Homo sapiens: one gene and its partners. The protein of the gene in region 6 purifies or fractionates together with the protein of the main gene of each other region. This does not show direct contact. Each region holds a gene or a part of one and is shown on either strand. Other genes may lie near its edges. The genes, in order: PC, NOC3L, GCN1, RAI14, WASF1, ZNF746 and HADHA.

Region 1 (3,500 bases), on a different chromosome or scaffold from region 6:
GGCAGTGGGGAGTGAGTGTGGTGTGGACAGGGGAGGAGAGCAACAAAAATGACCTGTTTACCCACAAACCACGGGTAAGTGCCCCTGTGGTCGCAGGGTAAACCCACCCAGGTGGGAGGAAAGGACTGGGGCTCCCTGGAAAAAGCTTGAAACTGCCCTGGAGGTTTGAGAATCTCGGTGCCAGTGGGCTGCTGCCAGCTGTGAGGCTGCTCACCTATAGGCAGGCCAGCAGGTGAGGAGGGGGAGGGTGCTAGGCTCCTGGGAGACACATAGCCAAGTCCTCCCACCCAAGGAGTCGGTGTAGCAGGAGCTCCCTTCGCCTTTTCCTGCGGAGCTCTTCCTGTCCCTTCTGTATATTTCTTCTTTTTTTTCTAATTATAAATAACGCATCCCCAATGGAGAAAATATGGAAATTTTCCATATGGAAATATAGAAAAGCATAAAGAAGGAGGAAAACACAACTCTACAGCAATTCCATAGCACGTGGGAGTGAGGAGGGTGGCATGCAAGCAGTCCTACAGTTGTTGCCATTCCTTTAAAAAAACTTCATGAGATCATGTTGTTTACCATTAAATTTTCTTGGCTTCACATTACATCACAAGCATTTCCCATGTCATCAAAACCTGTGCAAACACATTATTGTTAATGGTTACATAATGTCTGTGGGAGCCAGGGTGTGGAATCTTTAAATTGCTTCTCATGATTTTCTGTTGTAAATAATGCTGCTTTGAACATCTTTCTGCGTACATCTTGGTTCCCATTTTGGAATATTTCCTGGGGTTGGATTTCTGGAATAGTAATGACTGGGCTCAGGGGCATAACCCGCCACCATGCCTAGCTAATTTTTTTGTATTTTTTAGTAGAGATGGGGTTTCACCGTGTTAGCCAGGATGGTCTCCATCTCCTGACCTCGTGATGCACCCGCCCTGGCCTCCCAAAGTGTTGGGATTACAGGCGTCAGCCACTGTGCCCGGCTTTTTTTGTTTTGTTTTGTTTTTGAGATGGAGTCTCGCTCTATCACCCAGGCTGGAATGCAATGGCGCGATCTCGGCTCACTGCAACTTCCGCCTCACAGGCTCAAGCAACTCTCCTGCCTCAGCCTCCCGAGTAGCTGGGACTATAGGCGCCCACTATCATGCTGGGCTAATTTTTGTACTTTTAGTAGAGACGGGGATTCACCATGTTGGCCAGGGTGGTTTTGAATTCGTGACCTCAAATGATCCGCCTGTCTCAGCGTCCCAAAGTGCTGGGATTACAGGCGTGAGCCACCGCGCCTGGCCGGGCATAAATACCTTAAAGGCTCTTGATAAGTTTTGCAAACAGCTTCCCGGAGAAGCTGCCGTGATGCTCAGCAGTGCCTGCGGGCCGCCTCCTGAAGGCCTTCCTGGCGCTCAGCACTGCATTTACAAAGCTCCCAGGCAGGAGTGGCACCTCATGGTTGTATTTTGAATCTCTTGCTTTCTCGTGGGTTCAAGAGCCACTTGTGTTTGCTGTCTTGTTGCTGTGCTTGTCCCGAAGGCTCCCCTCGCCTCTTCCTGACTTTGCCCTATGTGGTAACTTGAGCTCTTTTGACATGGCCTTTCCCAGCGCTCAGCAGAGTAGACATTTGGTGCCCAGGAGGAGGGTGAGATTTACACCCCACACCTGCTCTCTGATGCCAGTGCCGCCTGCTCCCAGCTGGGAAAGACCTGTCCTCCTAGTGGGCAGCATCCGATAACTCGCCTGGAGCAGGGCTTAGAGGATTGTAGATCTGCATGTGGGAGATAGCAGGGTGATAACGTCTGACGTTCATCCTGCTCTGAGCAGGGTGTCTCCACACCTGAGCTCCTCGCTGGTGCTCCCGGCACCTCTTGAGCAGCAGGTGCTGGGGCATGCACTCCCTAAGGTTATCTCCTCCAGCGGCATTAGCGGTGGGTATGGTTCTTTTCACTTGTCAATTTGAAATGATTTCAGACTTTCAGTAAAGTTGCAAGAGTAAGACAAAGAATTCTCGTACCCCTGACCCCAGTTCCCCCAATACTAGCATTTGCTTCATTGTTCCCGTTTTTCCCTGAACCATGTGAGTGGGTGTAAATTGCAGATGTGGTGCTCGTGGACCCTTGAGTTCCTCAGTGTTTTTCCCTAAGAATGAGGCTGTTCTCTAACATAACCACAGTCCACTGATCAAGATCAGGAAATTGATATCAACGCAATCCTCTTTCAAACCTGCAGACCTTATTTAAATTGTATCGTTGTCCCCTGATGTCCTCTTAGCAATAGAAACCCGGATCCAATCCAGGATCGTGTGTGGCTCTCACCATTGTTGCTTTGGTCTCCTTTCATCTGAAACCGTTCTTGCGTCTTTGTCTCTCACGACCTTTGACATGTTTGAAGAGTCCAAGCCAGTTATTCTGTGGAATTTCCCTGAATTTGAGTTTGCCCCTTGCTTTCTCCTGATTAAATTCAGGCCGTGCACGGCAGCGGGAACCCCATCAGGAGGTGTGTGGTATCCCTTCGGTGCTAGTGATATTAACCTTCATCTCTCGGTCAGCGTGGTGTCCGCCAGGTTTCTCCACTGTGCAATGAATAAGGACAAGGTATATTTTAGAAAGAGGAGGAGCCCAGAGTCCAGCAAGGTTACTCTACCCACGTTCACCATAGCCGGGTGTGACCTGGGTGCCTCCTGGTCACCGCAGTGGCCCCTTCCCAGCCCCCATCTTACCCTGCCTCTGGGAGTCATGCTCTGCCCAACTCGCGCCCCATCCTCCTGAGAGCCGCTCGCTTCTGCCCAGCGACCCGTGCGTCCCTCCCTCCTCCAGGCATCCCCCCTGGGCTCCTTCTTGGCTCTTCCTCCTCGGCCAGACTCAACTCCAGTGGGCCTGAAGACGCAGGCCTGACCCACTTCTCCCAGGCTGTTCTCTCCCTGGCTTCAGACACCACCGCCCCTGTGATGCTGCCCAGGTTCTTGTCCCTGCTCTTCCCCCTCTGTGAGCTTGCCTCACTCCCAGCCCTGCCTTTTCTGTCTTGCCCTTCTTATAGCAGGAAAAGTCATCTCCACCCACCCATACAGGATTTCTTCCTCTACCTTGCTTTCTATGGGGGGTCTCTCGACGAATCTTGTCTGTCATAGCCCAGATGTTTCCTAAGCCCCACCCCGACCCCCATAGCTTCCCCCTGTCAGAGGCTCCGCGTCTCTCAGCTCAGCCTCTGAATTGCCCCAGACATGCGTCGTCTGTCAGCCCCTGCTGCTCGCCAGTCCAGAGAGATCCTTTCCACTGTGCATCGATCATGTCCCTCCTGTCCTGTCCATGGCTGAAGGGAGGCCTCAACCACTGGGCCCTGTCTGTGGCTGCAGCCCCACCTCAGGCCGTGGGCTCACACTTCCCTCTCTCAGGACAGCACCAAGCCTGTTCTTCCTGAGAACTTCACAATTGCTATCCCTTCTTCCTGGAGCTTTCTCTGCGGATCTGTGCGTGGCCGACTTCTCCCCATCCAGGTCCCAGCTTCTGTGTCCCCTCCTC
Region 2 (3,500 bases), on a different chromosome or scaffold from region 6:
ATGTCACTCATAAGGTCTTTTATTCTTCTAAGATTTACATAGATCAAAGACTTCTTGCTAATATTGAAGAGATGTCCTGACTTTAACCTACTTCAGTGTCTACTATAGTATATGGAGTAACTCTCAAATTTAGCAGCTCATATGATTCTTCTTTAACCCTATTGGGTGGTCTCAGTTATTTCTACAAATAGAGGCCCAGGACAGTGAAGTGAGTTACCTAGGATCACGCAGGTAATTAAGAGCAGAGCCTGAACTAGATACTGGGGTCCAGTATTCTTTCCATTTTATCCTTAAAGCTGTCATAAGGTCCATATTCTTGTAAGTAGCAGAATCTTTCCTTGTCTCTCTTCCCACCACCTGTTTTCTTAGAAGCCGATCCTGCCGGATACCTCCTAAACTTTCCTCAGGAAGTTGTTTGCTTCTAGTAATTTCTTTCTCAGTGCAGAAGGATTTTTGAAATATTTTTGGTTTGTTCAGTGCCTTATATATTTCTACTGAGTTTAGTGTTCAATGGTGTATGAATTGTTGAAGAGGCCAATCTGAATTAATGAAAAGTATCAATAATTGCCATGTCTTTCATAGCTAACATTTCGAAATAAAGAATATTAAAAATACAGTTTTAAAGTCAAGCTTAATTTCTACCAGCTTTATTTCTGCTTTTAGTTCACTGATTAACTGTTTTGTTTGATTCCAGGTTTGCTCACCTTATAAATGTGGAATTTTTTGATGATCTGTTAGTAGTTCTTCATACTCTCATTGAGTCTGGTGTAAGTAATAATAAATTATTTTTTAAAAGATATAAATGGTAATTACTATTTTAAAAATTTTTCAGGTTTATTGAGATATATTTTGTATACAGTAAAACCCCTTTTAGATGTACAGTTTATGAATTTTGACAAAGGCCTATGATCATATGATTACCACCACAGTCAAGATGTAGAACGTTTTCAACCATTGGAGAGTTTTAAGCAGGAGGGTTGTCTGACCTGTTTTCTTTTTTTTTTTTTTAAATTGATGCATAATAGATGTACATGGTTTCAGGGTATATGTGATAATTAAATATATTCATATAATATAGTTTGTAAATATTTTACTTGGGATATCAGTCACCTTAAATATGTGTCTTTATGTGACAACCATTCAAATTCTTCCCTCCTAGCTATTTTGAAATAGATAATAGATTATTGTAAACTATAGTCACCCTGTAAATCTGCCTCATACTAGGTTATCTTAAAGATAACCTTTATAGGTCTTTTTTTTCTTTTTTGAGATAGGGTCTCACTCAGTTGCCCAGGCCGGAGTGCAGTGGTGCAATCACAGCTCACTGCAGCCTTGACCTTCCAGGGCTCAGGTGATCCTCCCACTTTAGCCTTTTGAGTAGCTGGGACTACAGATGTGGGGCACCATACCTGGCTAATTTTTCTATTTTTTTGTAGAAATTTTTTTTTTTTTTTTTTTTGAGAGGGAGTCTTGCTCTGTCACCCAGGCTGGAGTGCAGTGGCGTGATCTCGGCTCACTGCAAGCTCCGCCTCCCGGGTTCACACCATTCTCCTGCCTCAGCCTCCCGAGTAGCTGGGACTACAGGCGCCCACCACCATGCCCGGTTAATTTTTTGTATTTTTAGTAGAGACAGGGTTTCACCGTGTTAGCCAGGATGGTCTTGATCTCCTGACCTCGTGATCTGCCCGCCTCGGCCTCCTGAAGTGCTGGGATTGCAGGCGTGAGCCACCGCGCCCGGCCCTGAGAGATGGGTTTTTGCCATGTTGCCCAAGCTGGTCTTGAACTCCTGGGCTCAAATGATCTGCCTGCCTCAGCCTCCCAAATTGCTGGGATTACAGGCTTGAGTCTTTGCTCCTGGCCTTAAAGTTCTTTTTTAAAGCTATAAATGGCAATTACCATTCTTAATATTCCATCCCCCTCACCCCCCCCTTTTTTTTTTAAAGGACCTAAGCTATCAAGAAAGTCTTCACTGTGTCCAGACTGCTTTTCATATTCTTTCTGGACAAGGTATGATATTTTCTTAATCAAGTTTTGTTTGCCTTACCTTTGAATGCTATAACATACCTAATTGGTGTTTGTTGTCATTTCAAAGGTGATGTTCTGAATATTGATCCATTGAAATTCTACACACATCTCTACAAAACACTGTTCAAATTACATGCAGGTATGTATGTTTAGATAATGTTTCTTTTATATGTATTTATGTTTTAAGAATATGTTATGACCCATCATTGTAGACAAATGAGAAATAGGAACAGGTACATAAAATGGTGACTTTCCAGTGCCATGCATCTGTATTTAATCTTATGTAAGACTTGGAGAAAGAGCTTCTGGAATTGACTGGAGATGCAGTAAGTATAGCCCGCTGTATCTCCTTAGCAGTATAGCACTACCTCATTGATTAGAGAAATGGTTTGGGACAGGTACAAAAGTTTATCTTGGGTTTATCTGAAGTTCAGTCCAGTTGCGTAATGAAAAAGTAATGAGAACAGCTCTGAAGAATATGTCTGCTGTTTTAGGTGCTACCAATGAAGGTGTTGAGATTGTACTCCAGTGCCTTGATGTCATGCTAACTAAGCGCAGAAAGCAAGTTTCTCAGCAGCGAGCTCTTGCCTTCATCAAACGCCTTTGTACCCTTGCTCTTCATGTTCTTCCAAATTCAAGTATTGGCATTTTAGCAACTACCAGAATATTAATGCATGTAAGTAGTGATACAAATGAACAGAGCTAAGTTCTTATAATGCAATGATTTTTTTTGTTTGAGGCATGTCTTTTCCCCCCTTTTATATTATTTCAATTACAGAAGTAATTCACACTTGTAACAAAATCAGGTGACAAAAGAGGTATATAAAATTGAAAAAAAGCATTTTATACCTATTGACACTTCTCAGTGTCATTAGGTGGGTATCCATTTACCATTTGGTGGGTATTTTTCCAGCAGCCTTTTAAAGTTCATATATAAACACATACACATAGAAACAACTCAACTTTGTATTTTAATGGAAAGAGGATTATGCTATATATTCTACCACTTTTTTAACCTTAGCATTTAATCATGGTAAACACATTATAATGTCACTACTCTCTTTATGTAAGGTTTATTTAATTCTTTGCTTAACAAACACCATAGTTCTGACTATGTGCCTTCCAGTTATAAATGCCTTACAAAAATTTAATTTTCATAACTCTGAGGTAGCTACTATTCTTGTTCCTATTGTACATGTGGGAAAACTGAGGTCCAGAGAGGTTAAGTGTCTTGGCTTGAGTAGCAGTGCCAGTCAGTGGTAGAAGTGATATTCAAATGTAGGCAGTCTGGTTTTTCTGCTTCTTTCTATTTCTCTTGATATAGGTTATTTCTTTTTTTGCTATTACAAATGATGCTATAGTGAATATCTTTATGTATTTATCTGATGTAATTATTTCTATCAGATTTCTAAAAGTGTGATTGCAAGGTGAGAAGCATATTTTTTTCTTTTGCAAGATAAAATTAATTTTCAAAG
Region 3 (3,500 bases), on a different chromosome or scaffold from region 6:
ACAAGAATCGCTTGAACCCAGGAAGCAGAGGCTGTAGCCAAAAGAGATGGTGCCCCTGTACTCCTGCCTGGGCAGCAGAGTGAGATTGTCTTAAACTAAAAATTTTAAAAAAATTAAAAAGTAGAGAGGGGCCGCGCACAGTGGCTCACGCCTGTAATCCCAACACTTTGGGAGGTGGAGGCAAGAGAATCACTTGAGGCCAGGAGTTTGAGACCAGCCTGGGCAACATAGTGAGACCTCACCTCTACTAAAAATGCAAAAATTAGCTACGTGTGGTGGTGCACACCTATAGTCCCCAGCTACTCAGGAGGCCATAGCGAGAGGATCACTTGAGCCCAGAAGGTCAAGGTTACAATGAGCTATGATCGCACCACTGCACTCCAGCCTGGGTGACAGAGTAAGACCCCGTCTCAATAAAAAAAAAAAGCAGAGAGGATGTGATGCACCCCCATGTATCCTTCACTGAGACTTAATAATCAACAGCTTGAATCTTTTAGGTGAATTCTCAATATACCTCCCATCTTCTCTAAGAACTGCAAACTCCTTCCCATGGCATCTGGCCCCCTCTCTCCCTGGACTCTTTCTTTTGCTTATTCTCTTGGAAAACTCCAAGTCCTTCTTCAAGTCTCAATCCAGACTTTGTGCTCTATGAAGTCTTTGGGTCTACAATGGAGCCAATAATGGCTCTGCTCCCTCAGTAACGATCCCAGCACAGCAAAGCCCACTCTGCATTCTAATGACTGGTTGGCATGTGGGCCTTGCCATTGGACTGTGGGGACTTTGCAGACAAGAACTCAGCCTCTGTGGAACTCTACCTCTCCAATGAATCACAACTCTTTCTGATGACAGAATTTCTTTTGATTCCTTGCCAAATGTAAATTTTAAAAACCAAACGTAAGACAAACATCAATATAGGAGAAGAGGGATCTGGTATCCTAGGAATTCAGACAAGGATGCCCAAGCCAAGCAACTGGCCACTTGCTTACATTTCTAGCGGGCCATCCACTTAATTGCTTTGGCGTTTTCATCCAAACACGAAGGCAGTGCCTAAAAGCACTCCTAACCTACTCCCCAGGGTGGTCTCCAGGATCATTTAACTCAGGAACCAAGTAAGAGTAATGGACTTCACACCCCTTGAACGTTGCTGCTATGGAAACAGTATTGTTGCCAGACGCAATATGCTTCCTCCCACCTGGCACCACAACTCTTACCTGCTCCCCTCCTGCTAAGGGTGAGTGCACACCCCCTCCCGCACCCTCCTGCCCTACCCACTCACACAGCTGTCCATCCCCTTTCCCAGAAGGAGGTGCACACATTTTAACTGGACTTATATAGCATCACAAAAGAGACTGATCCTGAGCAACCTCCACAGTTGTAAGAGAGCGATCATCTCCAGTTTCCAAAGGCCACTCAAGGAGGCATCCAAATCACTTAGCTCTTAGCCTGCAAAACTGACAGGAAAGCTGAGAAGACGGAGCCTCAAGTCCATGTGGCCCAGCCAGCACCTCCCCAGAGTGAGACTGGCTCATCCCTGAGGGCAGCACAAACCCCCTAGAGGTGAACCTCCTTCAGTAGCCCTCCCCCGCCCTCTGAGTCAGGTCGTCTGCAGTGCACAGCTGGCGGGATCCTTGGAAGATACTCACGGCATCCCGGCTGGTGGACTTCATGATCTCACTTAGGCCAATGCACACACCCTGCCTCTCATCGCTCTTCTGAGACCTCAGGCCTTCCTCAAGGATGGGGATGATCTCGGGGAGGATTTTCTCCCCTAACTTCCGCACAAGATCTCCCAATGTTCTCGCTGCAATCTGTCAACAGAGACCAATCCAGGAAGTAAAGTCCCTGCAAAGCCCAGGGCACCCAGAGGAGGACTCCAGAATGAGGGCCCTGAAACCTCCCAGGCTTTATCTGAATCACTGACTTAACTTCCCCAAATGCTCTTACCCCTAAAGAGCCCCCAAATACTCTCTGTAGTGCTTGCAAAACACTACCAAAAAATTATCTGTTTCACACACACCTACACAACCTAACATTAAGAGCCAGCAGCACCTTACACATGTACAAAAAATTCATCATCTGCTGCACAGTCAAGGGCCAATTTCCCTGGATGACTGAAGCCTTAACACTGTGCTATGGCTGAGCAGGAGCCGAATCTGGAACAAAGCTTTAAGGAAAAAAAAACATCTACTTTCTGAGACCTCATGCAAACCCTTCTTTAGAGCCAAATACACAATTTGCTTGCCAAGGATGGGGGGTTGGAAGTAGACCAAAGGAGATGGGCAGAAATGATCACCAGCCCATCTGGGCACCTCCTCCAGGCCCACTGATCTGTCTGCCCCTGCCAGCGCGCCAGCCTGATCTCATGCCGCACTGCTCCTCCCTGCCTCCTCACTCCAGCCACACTGGCCTTGCTCAGCCCCTACTGGTGCTATGTTCCTGCCCACCACGGGACCTCTGCATATCCTGTCTTTGTATCTGAAACATTATTTATTCCCTCTGTCTGGAATGGTCTTTCGCCACCTCCTCACCTGGTTAGTGCTTACTTATCTTTCATCTTCCAGCATCATTTCTTCTGAGAAGTGTTCACTAACACAGGCCCATCCCTCCCCAGCAGGTCAAATGCAGCTATTATAAGCATTTGCAGTGCCATGCAGCACTGGCCACAGTCGCATTTTACATCTCTTTGTGTGGTTATTTGATTAATATCCATCTCCTCGACTAGACTACCTCTCATGAGGATAAGGAATGAAGCTGCCTTTCTTCTCCATTGTGTCCCCAGGTGCTAGGCCCCTGCTTAGTGCACAGGAGATGCTAATAAATATTTGCAGAGGCCAGGCGTGGTGGCTCAAGCCTGTAATCCCAGCACTTTGGGAGGCCGAGACGGGCGCATCACGAGGTCAGGAGATCGAGACCGTCCTGGCTAACGTGCTGAAACCCCGTCTCTACTAAAAATATAAAAAAATGGCCAGGTGTGGTGGTGGATGCCTGTAGTCCCAGCTACTCGGGAGGCTGAGGCAGGAGAATGGCATGAACCTAGGAGGCGGAGCTTGCAGTGAGCTGAGATCACGCCACTGCACTTCAGCCTGGGCGACAGAGCAAGACTCCACCTCAAAAAAATAAATAAAATAAAATTAATCAAAAAATATTTGCAGAATGACTAAGTAAAGAACACAATGTCCCTCTGTTAGGCAGGGTGGATGGGTACTTTCCCAGGCTCTGCAGACCCAGCCTTCTAGGCTCTGAAAGGAGGCACTGGGGCTGCTGGTCCAAAACAAGGCCCAGGAAACTCACCGTTCTCTTATCTGCACACGTGCTGGCCAGGAAACCCAGCAGGAGCCCAAAGAGAGTGGGTAGGATCTCACGCAAGGTGCGGGGGGTATTGGAGACAACAATCTTCCAGACATGCAGGGACGCCTGCCGCACCACCAGCTGGGTGTCTGAGCGGCCCATGTACAGCCCTGCCAACACCCGGTTCCGCCGCTCTACCCCCAGGGCAGTGA
Region 4 (3,500 bases), on a different chromosome or scaffold from region 6:
ACGTAGAATCTCCCAACTTTGAAGACCATTACTAGGCTATTTTAACTTCACCAGGCTACTTTGAGAATAAATTTATATACCTATCACATGGTTCTGTCATGGGGTTATATTTCATGTTGCAGCATGAGAACTGACATGCATACACTTATATTTGATGGAGATGCTGTGAAGTGACTAGATAGAATCTGTAAATAAATTCATATTCCTTGAAGTTCAGTACTTCCTAAGCAGAAAGTAGTATAACTTCACAGAGATAGTGCCCAGAAATCTATCTGAAATTCTTTATGACAATACTCAATCTTTAAGTAGCACTTGTATTTTTAAATAGTTGGATATATTGTAACATCTTTTCCCTTTGCCTATTGAATGCTTCTACCTTAAAACTCACTGTCGATGGATTTATAGGGTATATTCCAGAAAAAAAACAAAATAACAACTTCTCTTTATGGTTTGTGTCAGACCTAAGATTACAAAAAATACTTATGTATATTCTTCTAGTATTTTTCATCATTTGTTTTATATTGTAATGTTTAAATGCTTAATCCACCTGACATAGTTTGTATATGAGTTGGAGACCTAGATTTCCTTTTTCCCAAAGGGGTTGCAATTGTCATGACATAATTATTCTTTCTATCCATTTCTTTATCTAGTCATGTGTTAGTAACAGACATAGGCTCTTAATTTATGTTATATTTTGATACATAGCAAGATTACTAAAGGGTACACTTTCGGTAAAAGTGGAATGGCAGGATATATAATGATTAGTGCACTGGGAATAAGCTGCCTACAGGGCAGTGGGATCTTCTGGTGTCGTGCGGAGACACGCCCTTCCTTTCTCCAGCACCGTCCCTCAGTATACCCGGTACACTTGCCTTGAGCCTTTACACACTTTGTGTTCTGTCCTCTCTCACAGTCACCCAAACAGTGATAGCCAAGGGCATAAGCAGCCGCAAGAAGCTGGAGCTCCTATGTAAAAGCTAGCATTCAGTAAAATTCCATAACAAGAGTTGTGCCAACATACAATCGTGACTCTATAGGGGTACAGAATATCAGGTTGGACCAGATACTAGATCAGCAGTCAGCAGTCCAAGTCAGGAGAAAAATGTGCAAAAAACAGGGGCTGACTTTTGCAATTCTGGCATTTTGTGCCTGAGGTAAAATCTAAATCTGAATTTGTCTCCTAGGATGGGAATATACCGCTGCTTCTTGCTGTACAAAATGGTCACAGTGAGATCTGTCACTTTCTCCTGGATCATGGAGCAGATGTCAATTCCAGGAACAAAAGTGGAAGGTACTCCAGAATTAGGCAGAAATCATGTGACTTCAGTGATACCCACATTCTGAGAGTATTTCAAAATATCACAGCTATATTTTGGATCATTTGTTATAAGGGATTTTTAACTTCTTACCTTTTTAAAGTTCTACTGTTTCTGATAATCAAGAATCTATGTTGACTTTAAAGCAATTTTCCCCAGACATCTGTGGACATCATTGCTGGCTAAGTCTGTGAGGAGACTATTAAATGCTAATGTGAATAAACAATTTCCTGTGACTTTCTATGCAAAATAAAACAAACCTATTGGTTGTTTTGGAGAAATGGTCTTAGAAATATATATGTTATTTAAAATGCTTGAGGTAAAACAAGGATAAGATTCATGCCAGTCATATTAAATCCCATCATATTATGCCAAATAGTATAGAAGATTGTGTTGTTTGACAAAATGTGGTTTAATGTTTTGATTTAATCTGAAGTTTAAAAAAAAAAAAAACCACCTAATTTCATCTTGATTGCATTCCACTTCGAATTCCCTGAAGATTAAGTGTAATAAAGGTTTAACTGCACTTAATCTTCTTTTCTCTTTTTTTAAGACAACTGATTTCCCAAGAAAGACTTTTTACATTCTCTTAGTACTAATTTTGTGTCTCTTTTTTCCTTTAGAACTGCTCTCATGCTGGCCTGTGAGATTGGCAGCTCTAACGCTGTGGAAGCCTTAATTAAAAAGGGTGCAGACCTAAACCTTGTAGATTCTCTTGGATACAATGCCTTACATTATTCCAAACTCTCAGAAAATGCAGGAATTCAAAGCCTTCTATTATCAAAAATCTCTCAGGATGCTGGTATGTAAAAGAAAATAGCCAATGTTGTTTTAAGTTTATCCACTCCATTTTCCCCAAAGGATAAAGGAATGTGTGCAATATGATATATTTTATTATTCTTTTAAACATATTCTTGAAAAAAAAAGGAGTGTTAAAAAATATTGTATATGGTGTATGTGTGTGTATCCCCCCACCCAAAGTGAATATGAATCATTATGCTTCTTATAGTTCTTTTTTTCACTTTTTCCTCTATAGATTTAAAGACCCCAACAAAACCAAAGCAGGTATTTATCTTTGGGGGAGGCTTCTATGTTTCATTTATGCTTGTGGGAATTTAAAAATGTTCAGATTTAACCACTCTGGTCCACTAGTAAAGTAATAAAGACTATATTGAAAATACTTAGGGACTGAAATATCTTTGAATAAATAAGTCATTGTTATAAGGTGTTAAAGGTTGCCAGGCCGGGCCGGTGGCTCACGCCTGTAATCCCAGCACTTTGGGAGGCCGAGGCTGGTGGATCACCTGAGGTCGGGAGTTCAAGACCACCCTGACCAACATGGAGAAACCCCGCCTCTACTAATATTACAATATTAGCCGGGCATGGTGGTGCGTGCCTGTAATCCCAGCTGCTCGGGAGGCTGAGGCAGGAGAATCACTTGAACCCAGGAGGCAGAGGTTGCGGTGAGCTGAGATTGCACGATTGCACTCCATCCTGGGCAACAAGAGTGAAACTCCGTCTCAAAAAAAAAAGGTGGTAAAGCTTTCCTTAATAATTTGCTTTATTTCAAAAGCATGTAACTTTAAACTTGCTACTTATATGTTCATCTTTTTCTGAAATGTACTAACTCATACTTCCTATTGGTGTGAAAATGTTTGATGTGGCTTAAACTCTGTGACTGAATAACACTGTTTTAAATACTTGTAATATCACATGAGCTACAGAGCTTCAGCCAGAAAATGTTAGCTATTTAATGAAAATAAGAGAATTTAGCCTTTTCTTTTAATTAGGGTTTTTCTAGAACGTCATGTGGTGTTACACAAAGTAGAAATTGAGTTTGCCCTGTTATTGTGTAGTTTTTTCTAAAAATATATTGTCACTATCTGTTTTTTTGATGAACAGTATATGTTTGGTTGTTTATTTATTTACACATCTACGTTCTTGAAGAAATCATAAACAGCAAATACTCAATACTAAATTTATGTGCTAACTGTATTACTTACCAGTAACCTTCAAAAATGAAGTTATCCCTTTCCCTCATATTTATAGTCTTTAAAAAAAGGAATGGAAGTAATGCAGACGTGTGGGAAATACCATTGCTTTTCATTAATACAGAAAGCTGGCTGTGATTGTATTCTGGATTCTAAGTTGTAGTAGACCTCAACCTCTACTTTCCCAGTTCTC
Region 5 (3,500 bases), on a different chromosome or scaffold from region 6:
AGAGGAAGCTTAAGTCAGGGGTAAGCCCAAGGCAGTTAAATTTTAGTGACTATTGTAAAAAAATTCTGTAGTGGTCTATACTTAAAACTTAGTTTCCACCACAAATAATGAGAATCATACTTCTTCACAGGGTTGTTGTGAGGATTAAATCAAATACGTAAGATATTTAGTACAATGCCTAGCATATACAGGTGCTCAAAATGTTTCCAAAATTAAGAAACCAAACAGCAAATCCATGAAGCTCAGAGATCATCAACCACGATAAATACCAGAAAATCTACACCTAGGCATGTGATGTTCAAACTGCAGAAAACCAAAGACAAAGAAAAATTTTGAAAGACAGAGAGAAACCACTTTACCTATAGAGGGACAAGGATAAAAATTAGATTGGACTTCTCCTCGGTAATCATACAAAAAGAGAGGCAAACTAGGACAACCACTTACAAAACATTTTAAAGAGAAAGAAGTATAATTGATATGCTAAGAGAGGAGAGAAAAGGAAACCATACAAAGTGCTCAATTAAAGTCAGAGCAGAAAAAGAGAGGACATTTTTTGGGGGTGGAGGGGGTGAAACAGAGGTTCCTTCCATCACTCAGACCGGAGTATAGTGGTGCAATCTTGGCTCACTGCAAACTCCGCCTCCCAGGCTCAAGTGATCCTACTACCTCAGCCTCCCAAGTAGCTGGGACTACAGGTGCATGTGACCACACCTGGCTAATTTCTGTATTTTTTTGTAGAGACAAGGTTTCACTGTGTTGCCCAGGCTGGTGTCAAACTTCTGGGCTCAAGTGATTGGCCTGACTCAGCCTCCTAAAGTGTTGGGATTACAGGTGTGAGCCACCAGCCCAGCCAACTTTTTCTTTTTAATGAAACAAAGAACAAGTGCAATGAATAAAAAAAGTTGCAAATACAGTAGATTTTAATACAATTATGTCAATAATCACTTTAAATGTGAATGGTCTAAATATGCCAATTAAAAGATAAGAGACAGAGTAGATTAAAAAAAAAAGACCTAACTATATATTGTATACAAGAAACCCACTTTAAATGTAGAAATAGATTAAAAGTAAAGAAATGGAGAAAGATATACCATGCTAACACGAGTCAAAACAAATCTGAAGTAGCTGTATCAATTTGAGACAAAGTAGGTTTCTGAGCGAGGGAAATTAACAGGGATAAAGATAGGCATTGCATTACGATAAAGGGGCAAATTCTCCAAGACCTAATGATTCTTAATGTATATGCACCTAACAGAGCATCAAAATGTGAAGCAAAAACTGATAAAACTACAAGGGGAAACATGAACTCATGATCACAGCTAGAGATATCAACATCCTTCTATCGGTAATTAACTGACAGGCAAAAAATCAGTAACAATACAGTTGAACTAAATACCATCAATCAACTGGATCTAACTGATATTTATACAGTACTTCAACCAACAACAGCAGAATACATGTTATTCTCAAGCTCACATAAGTCATTCACTGAGACAGACTATATTCTGGGCCATAAAACACACCTGAAAAAATTTAAAAGAACAGAACTAATACAGTATATGCTCTCAGACCACAATGCAATTAAACCAGAAAGCAATCTCAGAAAGATAGATGGGAAAATCTCAAAACATTTGGAGATTAAACATCACACTTCTAAATAACACATGGTTCAAAGTCTCAAGAGAAATTTTTTAATACTTTGTATTAAGTGAAAATGAAAATTCAATTTATCAAAATGTGTGGGATACATCAAAAGCAGTGCTTGGAGGGAAATTTATGGCACCAAGTATATATACAGACGGTCCGCAGTTTATAACGGGGTTGTATCCCAATAAACCTATTTTAAGTTGAAAATATCATGAAGTCTGTATTAGAAAAGTAGAAGGATCTATAAAACCATAAAAACCCTAGAAGAAAACCTAGGCAATACCATTCAGGACACGGGCATGGGCAAGGACTTCATGACTAATACACCAAAAGCAATGGCAACAAAAGCCAAAATAAGACAAATGGGATCTAATTAAACTAAAGAGCTTCTGCACTGCAAAAGAAACTACCATCAGAGCGAACAGGCAACCTACAGAATGGGAGAAAATTTTTGCAATCTACCCTTCTGACAAAGGGCTAATATTCAGAATCTACAAAGAACTCAAACAAATTTACAAGAAAAAAACAAACAACTCCATCAAAAAGTGGCCAAAGGATATGAACAGACACTTCTCAAAAGAAGACGTCTATGCAGCCAACAGACACATGAAAAAATGCTCATCACCACTGGTCACTAAAGAAATGCAAATCAAAACCACAATGAGATATCATCTCACGCCAGTTAGAATGACAATCATTAAAAAGTCAGGAAACAACAGATGCTGGAGAGAATGTGGAGAAATAGGAACGCTTTTACACTGTTGGTGGGAGTGTAAATTAGTTCAACCATTGTGGAAGACAGTGTGGCGATTCCTCAAGGATCTAGAACTAGAATTACCATTTGACTCAGCAATCCCATTACTGGGTATATACCCAAAGGATTACAAATCATGCTACTATAAAGACAAATGCACACGTATGTTTATTGCGACACCATTCACAATAGCAAAGACTTGGAACCAACCCAAATGTCCATCAATGACAGACTGGATTAAGCAAATGTGGCACATATACACCATGGAATAATTAAGGCAGAAATCTATGAAATTGAAAACAGGAAATCAAGAGAAAAAAACAATGAAACTAAATGAAGATTCCTTGAAAATAACAAAATTGATAAATTTGTAGTTGTGTATTATGATGTACCACACAGGGCTTTTATTTTGGTTTAAAAAAAAATCAGTGCCACTATTCAAAATAGCAAAGATATGGAATCAACCTAAGTGTCCATCAATGGATAATTAAAGAAAATTTAAATGCAAACAATGAAATACTACTCAGCCATTAAAAAGAATGAAATAATCTCTTTTGCAGCAACATGGATGGAACCAGAGGCCATTATCCTAAGTGAACTAACTCAGAAACAGAAAGTCAAATACCATATTTTCTCATTTATAAGTGGGAGCTAAATAATTTGTATACATGGACATAAAGAGTGGAATAATAGATAATGGAGACTCTGAAGAGTGGAAGGATAGATGGTGGGTGAGGGGTGAGAAATTACTTAATGGGTACAATGTACACTATACTAAAAAGCCAGGCTTTGCCACTATGCAATATATCCATGTAACTAAACTGTACGTGTACCCTCTAAATCTATAAAAATAATTTTAAGAAGTGAGTGCTAGTCTTCATCCTCGACTAAAATATAAAATGCTTCACTGTTCCTCCCTTTTCGTTTAACCCTTTCACAATTCTCTGGCATAACCTGTAGCACATGCATGTTATAAAAATTTAGCAAATTTAACAAATTTAGCAAGATGTCCCTATTAAAACAACTAGAAAACAAACTTACTTTTGTAGCATAAGGTGAAAACATAACACACTTGACTTTTTTGGTAAAGGAATCAAAC
Region 6 (3,500 bases):
CAGCAACCAGCGTATTTCCAGCCCCTCTTTACTCTCATTGAATGATGCTGTGGAAGTGAGGGAAGCCTCCACACATGGTGTAAATACAACGAAACCCACCCACCCAGAACCTCCCACCCAGGCTAGGAAGCTGGGGACGCGCACGGGTTGTAACCCTCTTTTCCAGCCCAATAGTATCTGTTCTCAGCCATCTTTCTGTCCTCTAGTGTTCAGCACTGTCCTTGACGCCTAGAAGATTCTTAAAAATGCATCTGTAGAGCTAAACTGTCAATGTCCCGATGACGACTGGCAAAGCGGCCAGCCCGGAACATGCTTCTGCCCTTAGGAAAGTGCAAATCTGACTGAGATGAGATGACGAACATGGGGGATGCATTTAATTTCACACAAGTGGCGCACAGGAGGGCCTCTGCGGACCACCACCTTTCTCAGTGTCAGACGAAAGGGAAAACCAAGGCAGGTGGGACGGTCAAGGGCGGGTCTTCTGGAGGAATCAGGGGTCGAGCCTTGCAGAGATGTGGTCTCCCTAGTCAAATGACCCAGCAGGTCTTCACTTTAGGAATTTGGTTTTTCTCCTGTGTCCACCTGTCCTTCCCTTAACTTTCAAAGGTGCTGACTGGCTCCAGGGAAATCTGAGACGCTGATATCTGGTAACAAGATTCACCTTAAATAAATGTGTGCTTCTAATAATACCAAACCATAAGGCTGACCAATGTAGACCAAAGTAGCTCTACAACTGCTACTGGTTTAAATTAAGGTTGGTTCTTGGAGGCAAGGCTGACTCTTTGCAAAGCTTTGGATTAATTTTGTTGTCAATATACAGCTGACCTTGAACAACATGGGTTTGAACTATGCAGGCCCACTTATAAATGGATTTTCTTCTGCTTCTGTCACCCCTGAGACAGCTAGACCAACCACTCCTCTTTCTCCTCAGCCTACTCAATCTGAAGAAGACAATGAGGAGGATGACCTTTATGATGCTCCACTTCCACTTAATGAGTAATAAATATATTTTCTCTTCCTTATGATTTTCCTAGTAACATTTTCTTTTCCCTAGCTTATTGTAAGTATCACTATGTAACACACAGAACATACAAAATATGTGTTATTGACTGTTCATAGTATCAATAAGGCTTCTGGTTAATAGGAGACTACTAGCAGTTAACTTTTTAGAGAGTCAAAAGTTATACATAGATTTTTGGCTGCGTGGGACTGGGGGCTGGTGCCCCTGGCCCCTGCGTTAAGGGTCAACTATGCTCCTGCCTTCCCTCTCAGCGTTCTCCTCTCCCTCCCCTCAACCTGTGCCCTGCCTTTGTCTCTTCCTAAAAGATTAGGTTTGCCACCTGTTTCCCTGACAGAAAGTGTTCATTTCTGGAGCATTAGCTGACTAAGTTAGAGATTAAAACTCAACTATAAAAAACTCAAGACATAAAACCTGTAAGTTTCATGTTTCTCCTCGACTCTCTCTGGAAAGATCACACCCTTTCTGGCCTTTCCGTCTCTGTTTCCTGCACAATACCTGATGCCTCCCTGGCCTTCTCCCAGCCCTTACCTGGACTGGGGTCCACAGGAACATCTGGAATCTTGGGGCCAGGGCGGCGCCAGTTGCAGGGCTCCTTCCCTTGTTCAATCTGGGAGAGGACCTCGGGCTTGGAGATGGCGTAGTCTGAGGAAAGACAGAAGGTTAGTTTTTGCCACGTTCCAGTCAAAGCTGGGGACAGTCATCCCGGAAAACCAACAATGGTCTAGAAATGAAATCTCTTGATTGTCACAAAGCAGTAGCTCTCAACCACAGGCAATTTTGCTCCCTGGGGGCATCTGGCAAAGTCTGGAGACAATTCTGGTTGTCATGCCCAGGGCTGGGGGAGAGGTGACTGGCATCTGGAGATGCCCTGAGAGGCCAGGGCTGCTGCTCAACATCCTACAATGCAGAGGATGCCGCCGACACACAGAATCACCTGGTCCCAAATGTCCACAGTGCCGGGGTGAAGAAACTGCCACAGAGCGTGCACGTTAAACAGCAGTGCACTTGTGCTGACGAAACAACCTCACGTCTGCACCTGCTCCTGCCCTCTCTAACAGGTCTCACTGCCCTCGGCTCCGGGGTCACACAGAAACCATTAGGAAGAGAAAACCAGCCCAGGAAGAAACAGAGTCCAGGCCCTTCCTGGGCAGGATTAAACAAGGAGAAGAGCAGTAGCCCCAGGGGCTGAGGGAAGCAAAGTTTTGAGGCATGAAGAAAATGTCTGCTGCAAGCAGCACCGTCTGCCCATGTTCTCCACTGACCTCGAGGCATGTTGCCGTAAGGGCCACGCATGTTTGTAGGAGAAGGCTGAAGGAAAGAGTCTTTCTCAAATGTGAGTCAATTACATACTGGATCTGAGAGCAGATGGGGCCTTCCCCGCTCCAAGTCAGCAAGAACAGAAAGGTCCACATCCCGGGCCTGCGTAGGAGAGAAGCCACCGCCGTTCCCAGACTGGCATTCTGGGAAACTCAACACAGGGAGAAGGGAGCTTTTAACTCCATCACCCAGGGCTCATCCTTCACAAAAGGTAACAACTTGCAAGGTCAACAATGTTTCTGGTGATTTATATAACACTGACATGAAAACAACTATGTGGAGGGAGAATTCTGAGGACTTGCAAAATCCCATTTAACAGAGAAATGAGTGTCAGGCCTTACCCAGGGAGACCAGCGTCTCGTAGTTGCCCCTCATCACGTGCTTGTAGAGCTCCTTCTGCCAGTCCTCCAGCTTGCCCCACTCCTGCTCGGAGAAATACACGGCCACATCATCAAAGGTCACGGGCACCTGGAACCACAAGTGTCACACTCGCTCACCCACACGCTCACGGGTTTGGCCGCTTGGGCTCCCACACCCCAAGGCGTCCCAGGGCTACCTTAGGGGACTCCCCCTTGCTGCCCGGGGGCAGCCGCAGGATCCAGAAGTTCCTGTTGCGCAGCAGGTTCTCCACGTTCTCCAGCCGCCTCTGCAGCAGCCCGTACTCCTGCAGCAGGGTCCCCAGCACGGCCCACTTGCCCTCCAGCTGGTTCCCGAACTCCACGGCTGTCTTCTCGCAATCAGCCAGCTTCTTCTCGGCCATCCCGGTTCGACCTTCTAGGGAAAGCAGGCGAGCAGCCTGCGATTCAATCTTCCTCTCCATGGCCTGAATCGTGGCTGCCATCGTCCACGGAGAAATCTTTCAGAAACAAAAGAGAAACTGGCATCACTCATTCCATCCACTGTCTTCATTGAGCCCCTCTCTCCCTAGGCACGGGGGAGTTGGGCTGGGAGTCCATATGTGTGGACAAGTGGGGCTATCCTATACCACATGCCAGATCTCAGGTTGGCCATCACCTGCTTGGGTATGTTAGGTCTATGTCTGGGTGGGTGCCTTTACTCCAGGCCTCTGCAGCACAATGCAGACCCTTATCACGGTGCTTATCACCCTACACAATAATTTCCTACCCACACCTACACTGTGGGCTCCCTGAACATGGTATTG
Region 7 (3,500 bases), on a different chromosome or scaffold from region 6:
GAGTAGCTAGCACTACAGGTGAACATCACCATACCCAACTATTTTTTATTTTTTATAGAGACAAGGTCTTGCTATGTTGCCCAGGGTGGTCTCAAACTCCTGGGCTGAAGTGATCCTCCTGCCTCGGCCATCCAGTGTTGGGATTATAGGTGTGAGCCACAGTGCCCAGCCTGGCTACAAGATTTTTAAAGTAAGAATACACCAAATTTAGATGGGGGAAAAGCATGGACTCTCACAATAAAGCTCTTCTTGGCAAAAGAATGGATTACTGTTACACACTTTATTGAAGCTGCCAAAAACAAAAGAAGTTTCAATTCGAACAGAACTTGATTTCCAATATGTGAATTGCATTGAGTCATTCAGATCCCTCAGGAAGCTTAAGAGCCAAGTATCCACATTTCACTCAGCCAACTTACTATGAATAGTGACTTATGTCAGGCAAGTAATGAAGAAAATGGATTAACAACCTCATATTTAAGATGGGTAGGCAAATTTTGAGTCTTATAAACAAAGCTTGTACTCTGGTTCTTCTCTAATAAGTCACCTCCTCATTCTACACTATAACCAGGAGGCTGGTGGCACCTAAGGTCAACAAGAGGAATTCTTACGCAAGAACCTCTGCTTTAGAAAACTGGCTCCCTTGGCAATCTGTCAAAGTTTAACATAACTGTCAAAACTGTAAATTCATGTAAGATTACTGCCAGATTGGTAGATTTGGGGAAATATGGGATACATCTTTCCCATTCAGGACTAGATTCATAATGCGGTTAGCAGAAAAAAACTGCAAATTAAATGAGATACCTTTGAATTGGGAGAGTTAATTCGAACAACTGCCACATCCCCTTTGACTCCATAGTTAATATGGGTTCTGGCTAAAAAGAAAAGAAAGATTTATTTGTAAACATATTTATTGCAACATAAATCCAAAAAGCAATGTAAGCATACACATTAAAAAGAAATTAAACTTACTCAGCAAAGCAGAAGACCCTGTAAAATTGCGGCATATATAACCTGTAAGAAAAGACATTTCAAAATTAATTTGCGAAACAATTTCTGTAGTACCTTTTATATATAACAAAGCTGTAATTTACAATAATAACAACAACAAAAACCCCAAATCTGTACAATGTATTCTAGGCCATATGACTACTGCCATATTTTTTCCATTTCAGTTGTTAGGTCAGATGATTATTTGGATACTAAAAGAGGAAGACTGGCCCCCACAAAGGGATATACATCCCCAGAACCTGTGAATATGTTAGGTTACACGGCAAAGGGGGGATTAAAGTTGCTAATCAGTTGGCCTTAATAAAGAAAGTTTATCATGGATTATCCAGGTGGGCCCAGTGTAATCACAAAAGGGAAGAGGGAAGCAAAGAGAACCAAAGAGATAGCAATGTAAGAGGCACATGGGAACTACTGACTGGAGAACCCAGTGAAGGTGGAGTGGAATAGGGGAGGATCATCAGTAGGTTGCCAAGGCTCTTGCTGCCTCCGTATTTTCTCTTTATCCCCCAGTTCCTTATGGAAAGGGAAGAGAAGGCACAAAAAATAGCAGCTTTATACTGGTTGGAAAGGCAAGGTGACACATTAAAAAAAAAAAAAGAAAGAAAACTGTGGTTAGCACCAGAAGCAGAATGGGGTGATTTCAGGTTCTGCCTGCATTTCTTCTTTAAGCAATCCAAGCCAGCCGACTTAGTGCAAAGGCAAAGGACTTGTGTTCAACCATCAGGTTTATTTACTAGCTGTGTGACTGTGAACAAGTCTCTTACAAGTGAACTTCAGTGTTTTAAGATGGGAGAAGCCAGCCATCTCCTCAATCCCCAGTGCCTCTACTTGACTAATAGTATGTTTCCTGCTTTGCTTTTCCATCATTTGAAATCTGTGTCATCTGTATTTACCACTCTTCCTTCTTTATATTTGCATCATGACTCCACTCTTTTCCACAAAACCTCATCTTCGGATTCTGTCTACAGTGATCCTTCCTTTCCTTGCCTGCATTTTTATTTTATTATTTAATGTTCTGTCCTCTAACTGCTGCATCTGTAGCAGGTGTTTCACCAACCACATTGTAATCTTTTCCAACATAATCTGTTATTCATTCAACAAAAACATATATTGTGACCTCCATGTGCCATTCACTGTTCTAGGCACTTGGAGTACAGCAGGACATTCAGGGTGAACAAAAAAGACAAAAATCCCTGTCTTGGTGGAGCTTACATTCCAGGTCAGCAGGGGATATGATATCTGGGAAGAATCAGTTCCTACTCAGTGAAGATAAATGAAAAGTGAAAATAGGCCTGGCATAGAAAAAGTTTTCCTGCAAAGTAGAAATTCCAGTGGGAAGGGAAGAAGGGGATAGGTAATTCTAGCAAAACAGGGTAAAGTGGATTAGAGTGGGAATGAACTGATTGGGAATGCAGGTTGAGAGGGAAAAACCAAGAAACACAAATATGTTAGAAAATAAGCACCTAAGCAAAAAAAGGAAATAGAGTGAGCATGGGTTGCAATATTTCAAAAACATTTTTTTTCTTTGAGACGAGGTCTCCCTATGTTGCCCAGGCTGGTCTTGAACTCCTGGGCTCAAGTAATCTTCCGGAGTAGCTAGGATTACAGGCATGTGCCACTATGCCCCACTGGGTTGCAGTTTTAAAGATCAAATATTTGAGATAACAGGTTAGTGGTCATTAGCCAACAGTTTAAACCATTTTAACTCCTGTCCACTAACCTACCTATGCTGCCCACACACTCATACACAAAACCTCTCCAAGATCAAGACAAATAGAAACAAATAGAAAACCAGTATATACATGAACATACTTCGAAAATAATTCCAAACCAGAGTCAACCAAATCAAGTCACACTGCAAGGTAGCTTTGCTTTTGGAGTCTAGCCTTACTCACTACCTAACTGCAGAGCTTACCCTATGGCAGCTGAGTGAACTTTAGCCTACATCTACTGTGCCAGCAAAGTAGAGAGAAACCTTTGCCCCACTTTTTAATCATCTTTGTAATGTAACCCAAGAATAACTACAAAACCTCATAAGACTACAGTCAGCGAAGAGAGCTGGATTATGCTAACATAAATTTCAAATTTGAAAACATTACTTTGGTTGTAATAATCAACAGCTTTTCTCAAGATTCAACACTGGGAGAAGCGACGAGATTAAGGAAGTGAGAATCAAATTTAAAAATACACAATCTATGGCCGGGCGCGGTGGCTCACGCCTGTAATCCCAGCACTTTGGGAGGCTGAGGTGGCTGGATCACCTGAGGTCGGGAGTTAGAGACCAGCCTGGCTGACATGGCGAAACCCCGTCTCTACTAAAAATACAACAACAACAACAAAAAAAAAAAAACAAAAAAAAAGTTAGCTGGGCGTGGTGGCAGGAGCCTGTAATCCCAGCTACTCTGGAGGCTGAGACAGGAGAATCACTTGAACCCGGGAGGCGGAGGTTGCAGTGAGCCAAGAGCGCACCATTGCACTCCAGGCTGGGTGAC

Evidence for each region.
Region 1: the proteins of ZNF746 (region 6) and PC purify together in Homo sapiens (affinity purification with mass spectrometry, with the first as the bait; one large-scale study listed by BioGRID). This does not show direct contact.
Region 2: the proteins of ZNF746 (region 6) and NOC3L purify together in Homo sapiens (affinity purification with mass spectrometry, with the first as the bait; one large-scale study listed by BioGRID). This does not show direct contact.
Region 3: the proteins of ZNF746 (region 6) and GCN1 purify together in Homo sapiens (affinity purification with mass spectrometry, with the first as the bait; one large-scale study listed by BioGRID). This does not show direct contact.
Region 4: the proteins of ZNF746 (region 6) and RAI14 purify together in Homo sapiens (affinity purification with mass spectrometry, with the first as the bait; one large-scale study listed by BioGRID). This does not show direct contact.
Region 5: the proteins of ZNF746 (region 6) and WASF1 purify together in Homo sapiens (affinity purification with mass spectrometry, with the first as the bait; one large-scale study listed by BioGRID). This does not show direct contact.
Region 7: the proteins of ZNF746 (region 6) and HADHA purify together in Homo sapiens (affinity purification with mass spectrometry, with the first as the bait; one large-scale study listed by BioGRID). This does not show direct contact.

The regions. Positions count from the first base shown.
Region 1 is NC_000011.10:66,874,884-66,878,383, reverse strand, and holds part of PC (pyruvate carboxylase, mitochondrial precursor), read left to right. Parts: exon of another isoform or gene 1-74; intron 75-3,500. UniProt on the Homo sapiens protein: Pyruvate carboxylase catalyzes a 2-step reaction, involving the ATP-dependent carboxylation of the covalently attached biotin in the first step and the transfer of the carboxyl group to pyruvate in the second.
Region 2 is NC_000010.11:94,338,940-94,342,439, reverse strand, and holds part of NOC3L (nucleolar complex protein 3 homolog), read left to right. Parts: intron 1-694; coding exon 695-767; intron 768-1,943; coding exon 1,944-2,007; exon of another isoform or gene 2,008-2,012; intron 2,013-2,092; coding exon 2,093-2,164; intron 2,165-2,519; coding exon 2,520-2,701; intron 2,702-3,500. UniProt on the Homo sapiens protein: May be required for adipogenesis.
Region 3 is NC_000012.12:120,139,216-120,142,715, forward strand, and holds part of GCN1 (stalled ribosome sensor GCN1), read right to left. Parts: coding exon 3,292-3,500; intron 1,809-3,291; coding exon 1,644-1,808; intron 1-1,643. UniProt on the Homo sapiens protein: Ribosome collision sensor that plays a key role in the RNF14-RNF25 translation quality control pathway, a pathway that takes place when a ribosome has stalled during translation, and which promotes ubiquitination and degradation of translation factors on stalled ribosomes.
Region 4 is NC_000005.10:34,809,828-34,813,327, forward strand, and holds part of RAI14 (ankycorbin), read left to right. Parts: intron 1-1,184; coding exon 1,185-1,291; intron 1,292-1,939; coding exon 1,940-2,118; intron 2,119-2,352; coding exon 2,353-2,381; intron 2,382-3,500. UniProt on the Homo sapiens protein: Plays a role in actin regulation at the ectoplasmic specialization, a type of cell junction specific to testis. Important for establishment of sperm polarity and normal spermatid adhesion.
Region 5 is NC_000006.12:110,169,671-110,173,170, forward strand, and holds part of WASF1 (actin-binding protein WASF1), read right to left. Parts: intron 1-3,500.
Region 6 is NC_000007.14:149,491,310-149,494,809, forward strand, and holds part of ZNF746 (zinc finger protein 746), read right to left. Parts: intron 3,195-3,500; coding exon 2,895-3,194; intron 2,807-2,894; coding exon 2,680-2,806; intron 1,664-2,679; coding exon 1,550-1,663; intron 1-1,549.
Region 7 is NC_000002.12:26,238,133-26,241,632, forward strand, and holds part of HADHA (trifunctional enzyme subunit alpha, mitochondrial precursor), read right to left. Parts: intron 1,012-3,500; coding exon 970-1,011; intron 873-969; coding exon 802-872; intron 1-801. UniProt on the Homo sapiens protein: Mitochondrial trifunctional enzyme catalyzes the last three of the four reactions of the mitochondrial beta-oxidation pathway.